Linked DNA regions of Homo sapiens. The protein of the gene in region 2 purifies or fractionates together with the protein of the main gene of each other region. This does not show direct contact. Each region holds a gene or a part of one and is shown on either strand. Other genes may lie near its edges.

Region 1 (7,926 bases), on a different chromosome or scaffold from region 2:
AGTACAAGACCAGCCTGACCAACATGGTGAAACCCTGTCTCTACTAAAAATACAAAAAATTACCCAGGTGTGGTCGTGGGCGCCTGTAATCCCAGCTACTTGGGAGGCTGAGGCAGGTGAATTGCTTGAACCCAGGAGGTGGAGGTTGCAGTGAGCCGAGATTGTGCCATTGCACTCCAGCCTGGGCAACAAGAGCAAAACTCTGTCTCAACAAACAAACAACCCCCAAAATTAGCTGGGTGTGGTGGCACGCACCTGTAATCCCAGCTACTTATGGGCAGCTGAGGCAGGAGAATCTCTTGAACCTGGGAGACGGAGGTTGCAGTAAGCCAAGATTGCGCCACTGCACTCCAGCCTGAGCAACAGAGTTAGACTCTGTCTCAGAAAAAGAAACAAAAAAAAGCCTGGGCACGGTGGCTCAGGCCTGTATTCCCAGCACTTTGGGAGGCCGAGGCAGGTAGGTCACGAGGTCAGGAGTTCAAGACCAGCCTGGCCAACATGGTGAAACCTTGTCTCTACTAAAGATACAAAAAATTATCCAGACTTGATGGAGCACGCCTGTAATCCCAGCTACTCAGGAGGCTGAGGCAGGAGAATTGCTTGAACCCGGGAGGCGGAGGTTGCAGTGAGCTCAGGTCACGGCCACTGCACTCCCGCCTGGGTGACAGGGCGAGACTCCATATATAAATATAAATATAATATATAAAATATAAATATATAAAAATATATAAATATAAATATATATAAATATATAAATATAAATATATAAATATATAAAAATATAAATATATATACACATACATATATATATGTATATATTATATATATGTATGTGTGTATATATATATATATATATATATATATATATATATATATATATATATAGTTACAGGAAATTGCCTACTGAGGTGCCACTAAACTCACCGGGAAGCCACCACCCTCTGAATGTCCCAGCCCCCTTTGTGTGTGGGGAGGAAGGGATGGTTCTATAAGCCATTTGCTGCCATGTGCCACAAAGCAAGAAGGAAAAGAAAGTACACTGGAACCAGGATGAGAAGCCCCTTCATTCTGCTGTGTTCCTCTAGTGCTCTCTACTGACAAAGTTAAACACTGTGCCAGCTGGCAGAGAAGTATTTACAGGATCCTGCTCCAGTATTTCAAAGCATAGAAAAGAAGGTTAGATTTGGAGCTATGAGGTTATAAATTGATGGCAGGCACATACATGTTCTGCTGCAGAAGAAGGTATTTGATTACGGAGTGCTGTCCTGAGACCCCAGAAGGAGTGTTACATTGTACAGTTTATGTAATGCACCATTGTGCCTTTGTACAATCTAAGCAATTCTGGGTTCTGAACTGGACCTCAGGGGAATCACGACCTGTACCACTTTGTTATGATCATGTCTTGCAAACCTCAGTGAAGAGCTATCTGAAACACGGTGGGAAAATATGCCTCAGGGTGTTCTGCCTTTGTCTATGACCAAATCTAATCAACAGCTGCCATCAAGCCTGAAGCAATAAGAGCACCTGAGTTCTTGTTTGAGAAGAGGTGAGAGCAAGGTGATAAAGCCTTGGCTCAGCTTGCCTCTTACGTAGCTTGGATAAGACTTCTTTTATCATATATATAGTGTTTATTTATTTATTTATTGTTGTTGTTTTGAGACAGGGTCTTGTTCTGTCACCCAAGCTGGTCTGGTACCCAAGCTGGTCATTCTGTCACCCAGGCTGGAATACAGTGGTGCAATCATGGCTCACTGCACCCTTGACCTCTCAGGCTCAAGTGATCCTCCCACCTCAGCCTCCTGAGTAGTTGCAGCCACAAGCGTGAGCCATCATACTTGGCTAATTCCTATGTATGAGCTTTTAACCCCACTGAGCTCCTGGAATTTGACCTAATAATATTAGTACTTTTTTCCTTTTAAGGCAGCATACAATTTTCTTTTTTTTTTTTTGTAGATCATGGTGCAGCCACAGAGATGGTAGCCCCTCCCTATGCTCCCAGGTATACGATTTTAATAAAAGGACAGAAACCTTGATTTATCTCCACTACAGTTCCAATGCCAGGGGATGCAAACTCAAATATCTATACAGGTTAGGGATGCAACTTAAATGAGTGAAGCATGCAGATACAAGGCAAAAAGGAGTGATGGCAACTGTGGAAAACCATAGAATATATGCTTAAATAAAGGTAGTTGCTATTTAACCCCTGCATATTGTTGCCATGTAGATCTAATTGTCAGATATTCTAATTTTTCAAGAAAAGCTGGAAATTCAGATTTTGAAAACCTGAACATCAAATTTTAAAAACAGTAAAAAAGACGGTATAGGACAAACATATGTATGTGCCGGGTCGGCGGGGGGAGGGTCACATCCAGCTTGTGACTCCTACCCCATGCCTGTTTTTATGCCCCTGTACAATCCTTTCCCACACTGACTATGGGTGTGGCCATACTACTAGTTTTGGCCAACGGGACATTACCAAGTGTGGTGCATACCAGAGGTTTGATAAGCATTTGTTCACTGGGGCTTGTCCTTTCTCAAGTCACTATGCAGACGTTTGAATGATAAAAAGCCACAGGGAGGAGAGGCCCTAGAAGATGAAAAGTCATTTTGAATGAGTTCCCAGCTGATTGCATGTGGGCCCCGGCTGAGCCCGGGTCAGCCCACACAATTGTAAAATCATAATAAACCATTGTTATTCTAAGCTACTAAGTCTTCGGAGGTTTGTTGTGTTGCAACAGGTAACTGAAATAGAGGTCATATCTAATCCCTTTGTTTTACTAATGAATGTCCTAAGGGCCATAGTGGAACGGACCTGGTGAAATTCAGATAGCATGACAGTGGTAAGAACTTTCCAATTCTGTGCTCTTCCTATTGCTTTTCTTTCAATTCCCTTGGTGAAAAGCACCAGGTAAGGACTATGAAACTTCAAAGTCTACCTGCAGGGAACTTATACTGTGTCCTGAATGCATGCAAATTACTGTAACTTGGTCCTTGGTAATGGAAAGATTTCTAGGTCATCCAGCCTCTTTGACTTTATAGGTGCAGAGAATGCAAAAACACTTTGAGAAAGTGAAAAGCAGCCTCTGATATCTGGAAGCTGGCCTGGTACAATCAGCCATGCCATGATGTTACTAGACCACAGCCTGGCCCTTATAGCTAGGCTTTGTGTTTTCCTGTAGAACAAAAACAATTCCAAAGAACATCAACATCAGACGAGGTCATTCTGTGACCATGATAGATCCAGACAAATACAAGACCACTCTATAATCAGGTCTAAACACGATAAAAAGATAAAACCTGATGATTGTCCAAACCACAAAAAATGACTCAACATCCCCACTTGGCTAATATGAGGGAGCTGCTGCTGCACTTTTTTTTTTTTTTTTCGTTTTTGAGACAAGGTCTGGCTCTATCACTCAGGGTACAGTGGAGTGGTGCGATCTCCATTCACTGAAACCTCCACTTCCTGGGCTCAAGCGATCGTCCCACCTCTGCCTCCCAAGTAACTGAGATGACAGGCGCGCACCACCAGGCCCGGTTCATTTTTGTATTTTTTGTAGAGAAGAGTTTCGCCATGTTGCCCAGGCTGGTCTGGAACTCCTGCGCTCAAGCAATTCGCCTGCCTCGGTTTACCAAAGTGCTGGGATTACAGGCGTGAGCCACTGCGCCCGGCCAGGCTGCTGTTTCTTTATCTGCACAGCTTTAGCCTCAATCTAGAATTCCCTTCCTCTAGATAAGATGAACTGAGATGCTCAATCATGGAACGACCCTCTCTTCCTGACAGTATCTAATCCAGTGAAGCTCTCACTTCCTTAAACCCTCTCCCAAATCACTAACAACTCTTACCGAGAGGCCCTATCGTTCCTCAATGTGTGTTCTCAGTCACTGCAACTAGTAATAAACCCAGCTTGTTCAACGATCCGTGTCTTCCTGGTGGGATTTGGTTAGAGGGCACGGACAGACCTAAGTTACACAGAGTTGGAGGCTGAGTTCACTAGAAGGAGTCTCCGCTTGTGTGTTCCTTCTTAGCCACTCTTTTGGTTAGTGTCTGTCGTCCCTCCACCAGAATTAAGCTCCATGAGAACAGGAGCCTTGTCTGTCATGTTCAGAGCTGATTCTCAGCGCCTAGAACGGTACGCAGCGGAAGCTGGATGCTTAAAAAATAACCATTTTCTGAACGAATGAATGAGGGGCTCGATATACGCACGTCCCCTTTAATCTCGCAGCTCCTCGCAGATCGTGTGACATACAGACAGCACCACAGCACATTTCCCAAAACCCCGTCTTTCCCGAAGAAATCTCGAAACTCTCACTCCTGGGATGCCCATCCTCTCAGAGCCTCTTCCCCAGGCCGAGCTTCTCTCACTCGCTGGCCCCTTCCCACACCTGAGCCCCAGGTCTATACACCTTCCTAACGCACCTAGAACCCACCTGTCTCCACCATCTGCCCCTACCATCAGACACTGCCGGACGGGCCGCGCAGCTACCTAGGCGTCTAGGGAGCACTGCGGCATGGACCGCGCATGTGCGGAAATGGGTCGCATACGCAGGACCTCCGACAAGTGAGGAGTTGCCTCGGAGTTTCCGTCCCGGTCTGGGCAGCCTTGGGCTGCCAGGAAGTCAAGAGAAGCTAGCCGGAAGGACAACCCGGGCGCACGGCTTTCTGGGACACGTAGTCGTGGCGCTCTCGAGGCCCTGCCATGAGCAAGCTCTTAACTCTTCAGGTCTGCACGTCCTACGCCCACCGTCCAGTGCTACTCTCAGCTCGGAGTTCAGCTTCGGGCTGCCAAGAGCCAGCAACCTGGTGTCAGAGGCTCGGTCCCACAACGCTCTGCGGGCCGCGGCGCCTGCTGGGAGGTGTAGTCCCCGATCTGCGTACTGCGTTCGCCGAGGGGGAGGGCGGAGCTGCCGGCGGCCCGGGCGGGCTGGCAGCTAGAGTGGGTGCGATAGCCGCCTCCGCCTCTGCCGCCTCCGCCGTCGCCTCCTCCGCCCGGGCCGTTCGCTGCTGCGCGGGGAGAGCGAGGCGGGGCCGCCGGGGCCGCCATGGAGCCCGACTCGGTGATTGAGGACAAGACCATCGAGCTCATGGTGAGTGCGGCCCGCTGGACCGTCTGTGCTTCCGTCCGTCCGGCCCCGGGCGGGCCTGCCCACCTCAACGTCCGGTGCGAGGCCGGCTCTGGCCCTTCCCAGACGCCTCGACCCAGACCCGGGCCCCCAGCCTTCCCTGGCCTCGGACCTGGCGCGGGCTCCTCTGATCCCTCGACATCTCCGGCCGGTCCTGGCCCGGCCCCCTCCATGCCCCTCGCTTCTCCCCCTCCCCCTGGTCCCGTCTCCGGTCCCAGCTCTCGGACGACCCTCGCTCGTTTATGCTGTAGACTTAGGTCGCACTCGCTCTAGCACCCCATTCTCCTTCTTTTAGAAAGGGATTTTTTTTTCTTTCCTCTGTTTCGGCCCAGGCCCGCACCGCGCTTGCAAGCCCCACTCAGGCCGAGTGAGATGGTGGGAAGGAGTACGGAGATGGGTTGGGGCCGCCTGGGCCTCCGCGTCCTAGGAGAGGTCTCAGCACCCACTCCCCAGCCTAGGTCTGTGTGGATGCCAGGATAGGCCCTACAGAGCTGGGGGGGCAGGGAGCTTTCGGGTTTGAGGCTGTGGCGGATAAGGAGGCCTCTTTCCCGGGCCCTTGTGGTGTCCGGCTTCTCGGACAAAGGGTTTCCTACCCGGCGGAGAGGGATGTTTGCATAGCAAGGGCCCAGGTACTCTGGATTCCATCCTCCAGGAAAGAGAAGGCGCAACTTCACGTTTTCCAGAGCTGCTTTGGGAAATTGGAGATGACTGGGGAGGGAGCCATCCTCATCACTGCCGCGAGGTCTTTCTTCTCAGAAAGAAAAAAAAAAGAGGGGAATCCTTGGCCCCCGGGGGAAGCGACCACTCTTCTGTTAGAAACCACTGGCAGCCAGGCCAGACTCCCGGTCCGTGGACACCCTCCACCCTCCTCCGAAGCTTTAGGATTTGAAACCAGAAGGGGTTTTTAGGAACAGGACAGTGAGAGAGTGGCTAGAAGTGAAGAATTTGCTAATTGATGGATGATTTGGTGGAAGAAATAAAATATGGCAGATATTACCTGCCAACGTGAACATGAGGGAAATCAAATTGGGCTCTGGAGAGCTGGGAAGAGGAAGTCTGCATCAGCAAATGGACATGTCCAGGATTTCTTCCTATGGAAGCCTTGACAGTTTCTTTGTATCTTTCCTAACACGGTAACAACTTCTTCCCCAGGGTTGAGAGGAGAGGTGGAAGAATCTACTTAACCCAGCAAAATGTTTTCCTAGCCAGATTTTCTTCAGTGTGAAAATGTTTATTGAGTCAGTGATTCCACTGGGTAGGGTTGGTGACATCAGAGCCACTTCCCCCATTTAACGCTATAAATAATAAATGGTGACACTGAAAGTCTGTTGGATAGCTGCATGGTTTCTGTGGATGATGGTGTCTGGGGAGTTGAGATGCTTGTTTTAAAAATGGAAGTACAGTAGCATAAATATGGAGGCAGCTTAATGTTTGCTGTCCTTTGCATAATTCACAGAACTGGACTTCTCTAGCATTCTTGAAAACTAGGAGGGAAAAAAAGAAACTGATAGTTTTTGATTTTTGCATGCGTGTGTGTGTGTGTGTGTGTGTGTGCACGTGGGGTTGTTTTCAAAGGGATGTCACATACTGAGTGATTTTTCCTTTTCAGCATAATTTATCATACTTGTAGTCAAGTGTTTGGTATTCTGTAACTTTTGTAGTGGGTTATTTTGGTAACTATCTTAAATCGACTAAGTATATTACATATTCTTAAGAATGTACACACAGTGCATGTACTTACAACAGAAGTACTTCATATCGAAAAATTGTAACTTGGTGCCTCTTTGAAATTGGCTGTTCCCAGCTCCTTCCATTTCTATTCCTTTAAAAAATAACGAAAATGTATTTATTTTCAAAAGAATTATAAGAAATACGTTGTAACCCAAGTCAGTGTATGGTTACAAAATAAAAAAATAAAAACCTTTGGCCTAAATTCACTGGCTTCCTATGCTTATAACTTAAAAAGTTTTGATTTTACATGATAGCACTTGGTTTTGATCAGAAAAGAGATTTCAGCCTGTTAAGGACATTATAAACTGGGATTTAAACTGGAATTCTTTGAAAATTTAACAGAGTTTAGTTATATTACGATTAATTTTAAAATGGCCTTTTATTTAAGGATTTTGATATTTCCTGAAAGGGATATCAGTTAAGACTCTTAGACAACCCTTATCATAAATTAAATATGTGTATTTATTTTAGTAAAGTAGCACAGGTGCTTAACAACTGATTGAGTAAATCCAGGATCAAATGTAGGAAATAATGCCTTAGAATCTAATTGCATGTGGCTTTCTGTTTTCACTGCATTTCAATTACAGTTTCCAGAACTGGGTTAAAAATATTTTTTACATTGGTTTCAAGATAATACGATTGATGGAGGAAAAGGGGTTAAACTGATGGTGTTTTGAAAGCCTAAAGCATGAAATATTTTTAGATTTTTATGAGTCAGCTTCAGTACTCAAATATTTGTGATTGTGCTGCTTGTACCAGTTTGGCACTTAATGCTTAACAAGATAACTTTCATTTGCTGTTCCAAAGTGTGCTGTATTAAAAAGAGGAAACAGACTTCTTGGTTATCTCCATTTTCTAATCTTCATCCCTGTACTTTCCTTAATATTGATTCTTCTGTTTTTCCTTGCATTTTTGATAAGTATATTAGGAAATAAAGCTGGTGATAGCAGAATAGTTAAATTTCTAAAATATAACCCCCACTTTGACTCCTACCGCTGCCTGAGGCCTGGGTCCACCCAGGTTGCTTCTCCTCCTGACCCACTCTATAGGATTCAGCTTTGAATATTAGTA
Region 2 (7,019 bases):
CCACTCGCTGCTGTGGTGGTGTGAAAGCAGCCACAGCCAGTATGTAAACCAACTGCCTATGCCCGGGAAAGTCTGACAGAGGCAGATGGTGGACCAGATTTGACCCATGGGCCGTGCTTTACCAACCTCTGCTCTAGAAGAACGAAATGCGGAACACGGTTCTCCTGCAGCAATTCCCAACTCCAGAGTTCCTAACATTCTGGTCCCTTCATAAAAGCCACGAGCCACAAAACCCATAGAGGCACTCAGGCGTGCAACTCACGCATAAGGAGCCCAGCCCTACGAGAAAGTCTGCTGCAAGTCCCTCCCCAACAGCAAACAGGCCACCACCATAAATGCTGCCCGTTCAGGCCACAGCAACCCTTCTCCAAAGGTCTCGTGCACAAACACAGATGCGCTTTCTGCCGACCGTCACTGAGGGAATTCAGACAGACCAAAAAGGACGCAGGAATGGGGCCCACTGCCAAGTGGGATTTACCAGAAAGATGACTCCAAAGTGCTCCGTCATGAAATATTATTATTTTAAGATCAAGGGTTGTTCAAAAAAGTAAGCTTACAAGGTCAATGACTGATGTTCATAAACAAGGTATTTATTAGCCTTATCAAAGTTTTCAGTATTTTTGCCAGTCCCAATAAGGCTAGTTAGTTTTAACTATTAACAACTTTGTTTTCCTCATTTTAAACGGACTTTTCTTCTGCAAATGTAGCCTCTGAATGAAGTACATCCTGAGGTCTGGATCTTTAATCAAAAAGACAAAAGGTTTTCCACGTACAAATTAATCGTAGCTTCATTTGCTAAGGCTTACAAAGTAAACCATGTAAGTCCACAAAGTAGGTAGGTCAAAACTGAGGGAATGAAGGCAGAAATCTGAGATGACTACATCGAGTGAACACACCAACCTTTGATCCTCAGCCTGAGACCCAGCCCAGGCCATTCTCCAAGATTCTGTTCTAGAAATGCTGTGGAAAGTGTCTGACTCCATTATTCAGACAGCCCAATAAACTACTTAAATGTTTATAATAAATTAAAGTGGTATTCCAAAAATATCTTGTAAACTTATTTGTCAAACAACCCGAGACAGAAAACAGAAGATCATATTCCCAAGCTATATTTCATTATTCTCATTTTCAAAGCACTTCACAGAATTAGGTAAAATTATATGCTTAACCATAATTTCCAGAGAGTCAAATTTAGGAATTAAAAAAAAAAAAAAATCTGATCATCTACAAATGCTTATAACGAAAGGAAAAGAGTAATCTATATACATATTTTTCATAAGTAATTTGGTTAGTGAAATCGATTTGTAAAAGTTAAATCAAAATTTTCACTTCATATAATCTACAGGTATTTTCTTCATAAGTAATTTGGTTAATGGTAAAATAGACTTATAGTAAGAGTTAGATCAAATTTTTCATTATTGAATATATCCCAATGGGGAAAATAACTCCTCTACCTTTCCGAAGGATGGAACAGGGAAGACTGTGGAGGGCAAGAACTAGACAGACCTCCCTCGGCCGCAACTGCAAGATGAGGGGCAGTCCTTTTGCAATCTACCAGGCTACTGGATACCACCACGTGATACACATTAAAAGAAAGACAAAATCAGAGGTCAATTACATCAAGTGAGATTATATAAAGTATATGTAATATACTTTATATAAAGATTATATATAAGATTATATAAAGTATATATAATATACTTTAAAGACTATATATAAGATTATATAAAGTATATATAATATACTTTATATAAAGATTATATATAAGATTATATATAATTACAAAGTATATATACTTTATATAAAGATTATATATATTACGTAAAGTATTTGACTACTCTCAACAACGACATTTTTAAGAAAATAAAGAAACTCAGACATCTGATAATGGCAGAGCACCGGATATTGAAATTGCTAAGAAATCAGCATGAATTTTCTGAGACACAAAAGCAGGAAACTGCCAAATGACCTATTTCACTTTCTGTTTCACCCATGTGTAGAACTGATCATCTCTGGTCACACTTTCGTGCTTAATCAAACTACATAATCCAAAAATGTGCTCGTGTGTGCTGTCAATTGTCTCTTTACAGAAAATACCTAATTCCAAATGTGGAAATGTAGCTATTTATCCTAATTTGTCATTCCATTTGGTGATAGTCAGAGCTACATAACCTGACTCAGTCATTATGCTGCATTCATGAGGCAAAACATTACAGATGTTTTGAGCATTAAACACGCTCAGAGTTGTGTTTAAAGTGTTTCTTTTAAATCCTTAAAATTAACATACAGTGCTTGAACAGATTTTTTCATCTATTATTGGGTTCTAAATATTCTACATTATTTTCCTCCTAAACCACTATTTTTCCCTCCACTATTTTATCTCCACAGACCTAGAGAAAGAATGAGAATCTAGAAAGGTCTTATATCTGCACTGTCCAATATAATAAACCACCAGCTACAGGTGGCTCCTGAGCACTTGAAACGTGGCTTGTCCAAATTGGGATGTTCTGCGCATGTGAAATACATAATGGAGTTTATAAAGACTTGGTATGTAAACAGAAATGTGATGTATCTCATTAATAATTCTTTAAAATTGATTGCTTGTTGAAATGATATTTTGGAAATACTGTGGTCAAATGAAATATAGCTTTAAAATTAATTTCATCTTTTTTTTTTTTTTTTACTTTTTAAAAATAGGGCTACTGGAAATCTTAAAATTACATATGGAGCTAGTTATTACGTTTCTATTGAACAGGGCTAGGCTCTGACGCAGGAAGACCTCCATGCAGGGACTTTGTCACAGGCCTCAGCCTCAGCCTGCTGGACTAACCCGCGACATCAGTATTGGCTGGAAACCAGGCATGGGACATATCTATTTTCTCTCCAACCTCCATGTCAGCACACACTGGGGACTGCTGCTTGCTAATTCACAAGGTTACCCTGATCAAACTGGAACCAGGGGTGGCGTTTTGATAAGACCGGCTTCAGGTAGGAACCCAGAGTTTCTAAGGGCTGGCACCATGAACCAGAAGCGAATCTAAAGCATGAGGTATACGAATAACCCAAGGATGTCACTGGCATTTAGATCAGCGTTTCTCAGTCTCTTTTTCATTATCAACATGCCCCTGAGCATTCTGAGAAATTAATAGCCCAACTCCACCCACCATGAGATTTTAATGCTGTGGCCCCTTAGAGACCACAAACCATTATAACGTCTAAGATTTTGTCACCACCCAAGAATGAATTTTCATCCCAATGGGGGTTATATTATTTCCTGTGTTGAGAACACAGGATTTAGCTCTACCCTCTTCCCCAAGTCCTTTGAAAACTAGCCAGGGGGCTCACTATTCCCAGAGGTTTCACTGATGTAAACATCTCTGGGGTCATCAGGATGGCATCTGCACAGTGAGCAGCTCTAGTTCTCCAAGTTTTCCTCTAGGGCAACTTGTGAGTTCATTTCAGGGAAATAAATATTCTTGAATTCGGCAGAATGGATTAAGTGTGGCGGAGGCACCATTCTAATAGCCCTGAACGACCTCAGCAGCTCCTGAAGCAACGTCTGTTTTTGAATTTTACTTAGGGCTAAGTATCAAGAAAGGCTCTGCCACTGTGTTTTCTCCTATTAACAATTAGCATGATGTAATTTACATGTTTTTCCTTTCAAGTTCACCTCCAGGGAGCTAACAGCCATATCTGCAGATGGATTCTGACACCAGATATAAGTGTATGATCTGAACATGTTCTGTGTTTGATCCTAATCTGTACCTCCGACTCTACACCGTGTTTTTCCTGGTCCTAATTATTTTCACTTTTCATTTCTATTTCATTCTTTTCTTAGAATTGCTTCCTATCACTGACTTCTAAGCCTCTGCACTGGGCCAGGGGAACAGGGAACAGCTTACCTGGGAGTGGGTGACCACTCTCTATCCGAATTAGGGTATGAGGCTGACTGAGGGTAAATCACAGCCAGGGAGAGGTTTTCCTCAGGAATATCATCTTGGAATGGAGGTATATCATTAGGAAGAGTTCTGGAGGAAAAAAAAAAAGATTAAAGTCAAAGAATTCTTAATGATAGATTCATAATCAAGTTCCAATTTTTTCTTGATTAGCTCTAAGTGCTTTGTAATTAACATGATCTCTTTAAACACCCAGATCTGTTCCAGGCAGTGGAGGGGGAAAAAGTGAGATACCGGCATCCATAAACGTGTCTATGTGCTAATGCTTTGGCCGAATTCTAATTGTAAAATGATTTTGTTTCAGCATTTGGACTCAGACACACATGCAGTGATCACACTGCTGGATCCTCCCATCGTGCCACCTCCTGCTACCCTACACGGTCATGTTCCAAAAGCCTGGGAGGTAGAGTGGCCCCAAACCGGCCCCAGGGCGGTATAAAACCCCTGCCAGGTACAGGCAGAACTGCTGAATAACTCAATGACCATACGCTGATCACATTTTGTCTAGCAGAAGAAATAAATGGCATCAACCAAACATGCCTTACGATTACAGAATAACTGCAAATGACCTCGTTTCAGGTATAAGCACACTCACTACTAAATACAATTCACAATTTCAATCATGCAGAGGCCATCTGTCTATATGTTGATGTTACCTGGAACACCTACCACTAAATTTTGTACTTAACAGCCATGCAGAGAAGGCAATTATAAGAAGCCCAATGACGCTGGTTCTAAGCCTGTCACAGGTTAGATAGAGGCTGTAGTTGGGAAAAGCAATATTCGTTGCCAGTTGACATTTATTTTTCACCACGAAAAAAGATATATTTTATTCCAAATAATGACACAGGAAGATACTCCTGATTCCCCTTATCCCTTCTTTATGTTAACAAAATTATCAAAAATTATACCGAATTATGTAAAAATCTGAAACATCAAATATCCTTCAAAATGAATTTTATCTTTTAAAACTGGCATTTTTCACCAAAATAGTAATACATACAAACAGAATTTCACCACACTGTTAAAAGCAAAGAAAAAGGAAACAAAATTTCCATTAAACTTTGGACCTAAGTCAAAATTAAAAAGGAAAAAGTTGGCTTATAGAGAAAACAGCATTTTCTTCATTCACTTTTAAGCCTGAAATCAGCCCTTGCCTATAAATCAGCCCAGTTGTGCATCGTTGGTGCTCAAATAAGAATAAATAGGTTCCAAGAAAATGGGTTTGGTCATGAACTATTAATTTGCTCAGTTCCTGTTTCTTGACTCCATTCCAGGCTGCTAAAGCGATCAGCCAAGGAGGTTTGGCATCACCAACTGTCTCTTGGCTACAGCACAGCAAATCTTTATACCACTCTAGGATTGGGTCCACATGATTCCAAAATTCAGCCTAAAATAGGGGTCCCCAACCCCTGGGGTCCATGCCCCTGTTAGAAACTGGGCCACATGGCAGGAGGTGAGCGGCGGGCAAGCTGGCAAAGCTTCATCTGTGTTTGCAGTCGCTCCCCATCCCTCACATTACCACCTAAGCTCCTCCTCCTGCCAGATGAGTGGCAGCATCAGATTCTCACAGGAGCACGAACCCTGTTGTGAACTGCACATGTGAGGGATCTGGGCTGCGCACTCCTTGTGAGAATCTAATGCCTGATGATCTGTCACCCATCACCCCCAAGATGGGACCGTCTAGTTGCAGGAAAACAAGCTCAGGGCTCCCACTGATTCTACATGATGGCGAGTTGTATAAGTATTTCATTATATATTACAATGTAATAGTAATGGAAATAAAGAGCACAATAAATGTAATATGCTTGAGTCCTCCTAAAACCATCCACCCCTGGTCCATGGAAACACTGTCTTCCACAAAACTGGTCCCTAGTGCCAAAAAGGTTGGGGACCACTGGTCTAAAACACATAAAAGAATAAGGAATTATGGGGGAAAAGTTCATAAAAATAATCTTGAACAGTTAACTGTCTGATTCTGGCACAGCCCCTCCACCCTGGACAGTTATTACCTGCTGCTCTCCAGCAGCTCCATGGCCTCATCCGAGCTCATCTCGATGGGGAACATGTCCTCATCCTCAGATGTGTTCATGTTGTCATCTCTCTTCAGGCTGTCCAGCTGTGACTTTCTCCTCCTTTTTCTTCTCTTCTTTACTACAGAGCTGCTTGACGGCGTCTCGCTGGGAGCGATCACTTGGGCTGGCGTGCTGGGGTCCAGGCCTCTCATCCTGTCCACAGAGCCCCTTTTCAGCTGGCATTCCATTCTCGAAGCTCCTTCTGACAGGATGGGGGAGGTGGCCAGGTGCATAGGGATAACTTCCTAAGAAAAGAACACATTTTCTAAAAAGAGCCTCGTTAATTCAGGTATAAGAAGCAGGGCCTTGCCAGAGGCCTCCAGGATTCACTTCAGAGGCCAAGCACCTCCTGGGGAGGGCCACAGCAGATGGCCCAGCTAGAGGCCACAGCCATGGTGACCTGGAGATGTGGCTGCCCAATCTGGTAGAAGATCAGAAAGCCAACAATGTATTGAATGCCACTTTGTACTCAATCCTGCATTTATGTAATTTTAACAATGGGAGGTAATTCTCAGTGATCTCAAGCCCCCAAAATTCAACTTTGGCTGTAATACCCAGAGCACAGAGGAAAAAAATGGGCTTTGACTCACCATATTATGCTGGGAATTGGATGCACTCTTGCACTTCTGTGTAGATGTGGGTGTGCATGGGTGGGTGTGAGAGAAAGACAGAGAATGTGTATTGTGTATTTTTTATATGCAATGAATTAAGATAATAACCATCTAAAAACCAAAAACACGTAAAACAACCGATAGCCCCGCCCAAGAACCTGCCTGCACCAGGGCCCAAGGAGGGCCCTGAACATCGAGGAAGTAGATACTGATCCTCTCCTTAAAGACAAAAGGAAAAAACACAACCTGTCCATTTAGTAGTTGTTTGTAATGATTCAGCAGTTTTTATAAAACTCTAGTAATCATTTTATTAATGAATGCCTCATTTTGTATGAGAAACTCGTTGACAATAAGAATATACATAAAACAGAGGGGAT

What was found. The genes of interacting proteins can lie anywhere in the genome.
Region 1: the proteins of LPIN1 (region 2) and FBXW11 purify together in Homo sapiens (affinity purification with mass spectrometry; 4 studies listed by BioGRID and IntAct, with this or other methods). This does not show direct contact.

Annotation. Positions count from the first base shown.
Region 1 is NC_000005.10:172,003,620-172,011,545, reverse strand, and holds the start of FBXW11 (F-box/WD repeat-containing protein 11), read left to right. Parts: upstream 1-4,907; 5' UTR 4,908-5,043; coding exon 5,044-5,088; intron 5,089-7,926.
Region 2 is NC_000002.12:11,770,629-11,777,647, reverse strand, and holds part of LPIN1 (phosphatidate phosphatase LPIN1), read right to left. Parts: intron 6,277-7,019; coding exon 5,969-6,276; intron 4,029-5,968; coding exon 3,903-4,028; intron 1,563-3,902; coding exon 1,455-1,562; intron 1-1,454. UniProt on the Homo sapiens protein: Acts as a magnesium-dependent phosphatidate phosphatase enzyme which catalyzes the conversion of phosphatidic acid to diacylglycerol during triglyceride, phosphatidylcholine and phosphatidylethanolamine biosynthesis and therefore controls the metabolism of fatty acids at different levels.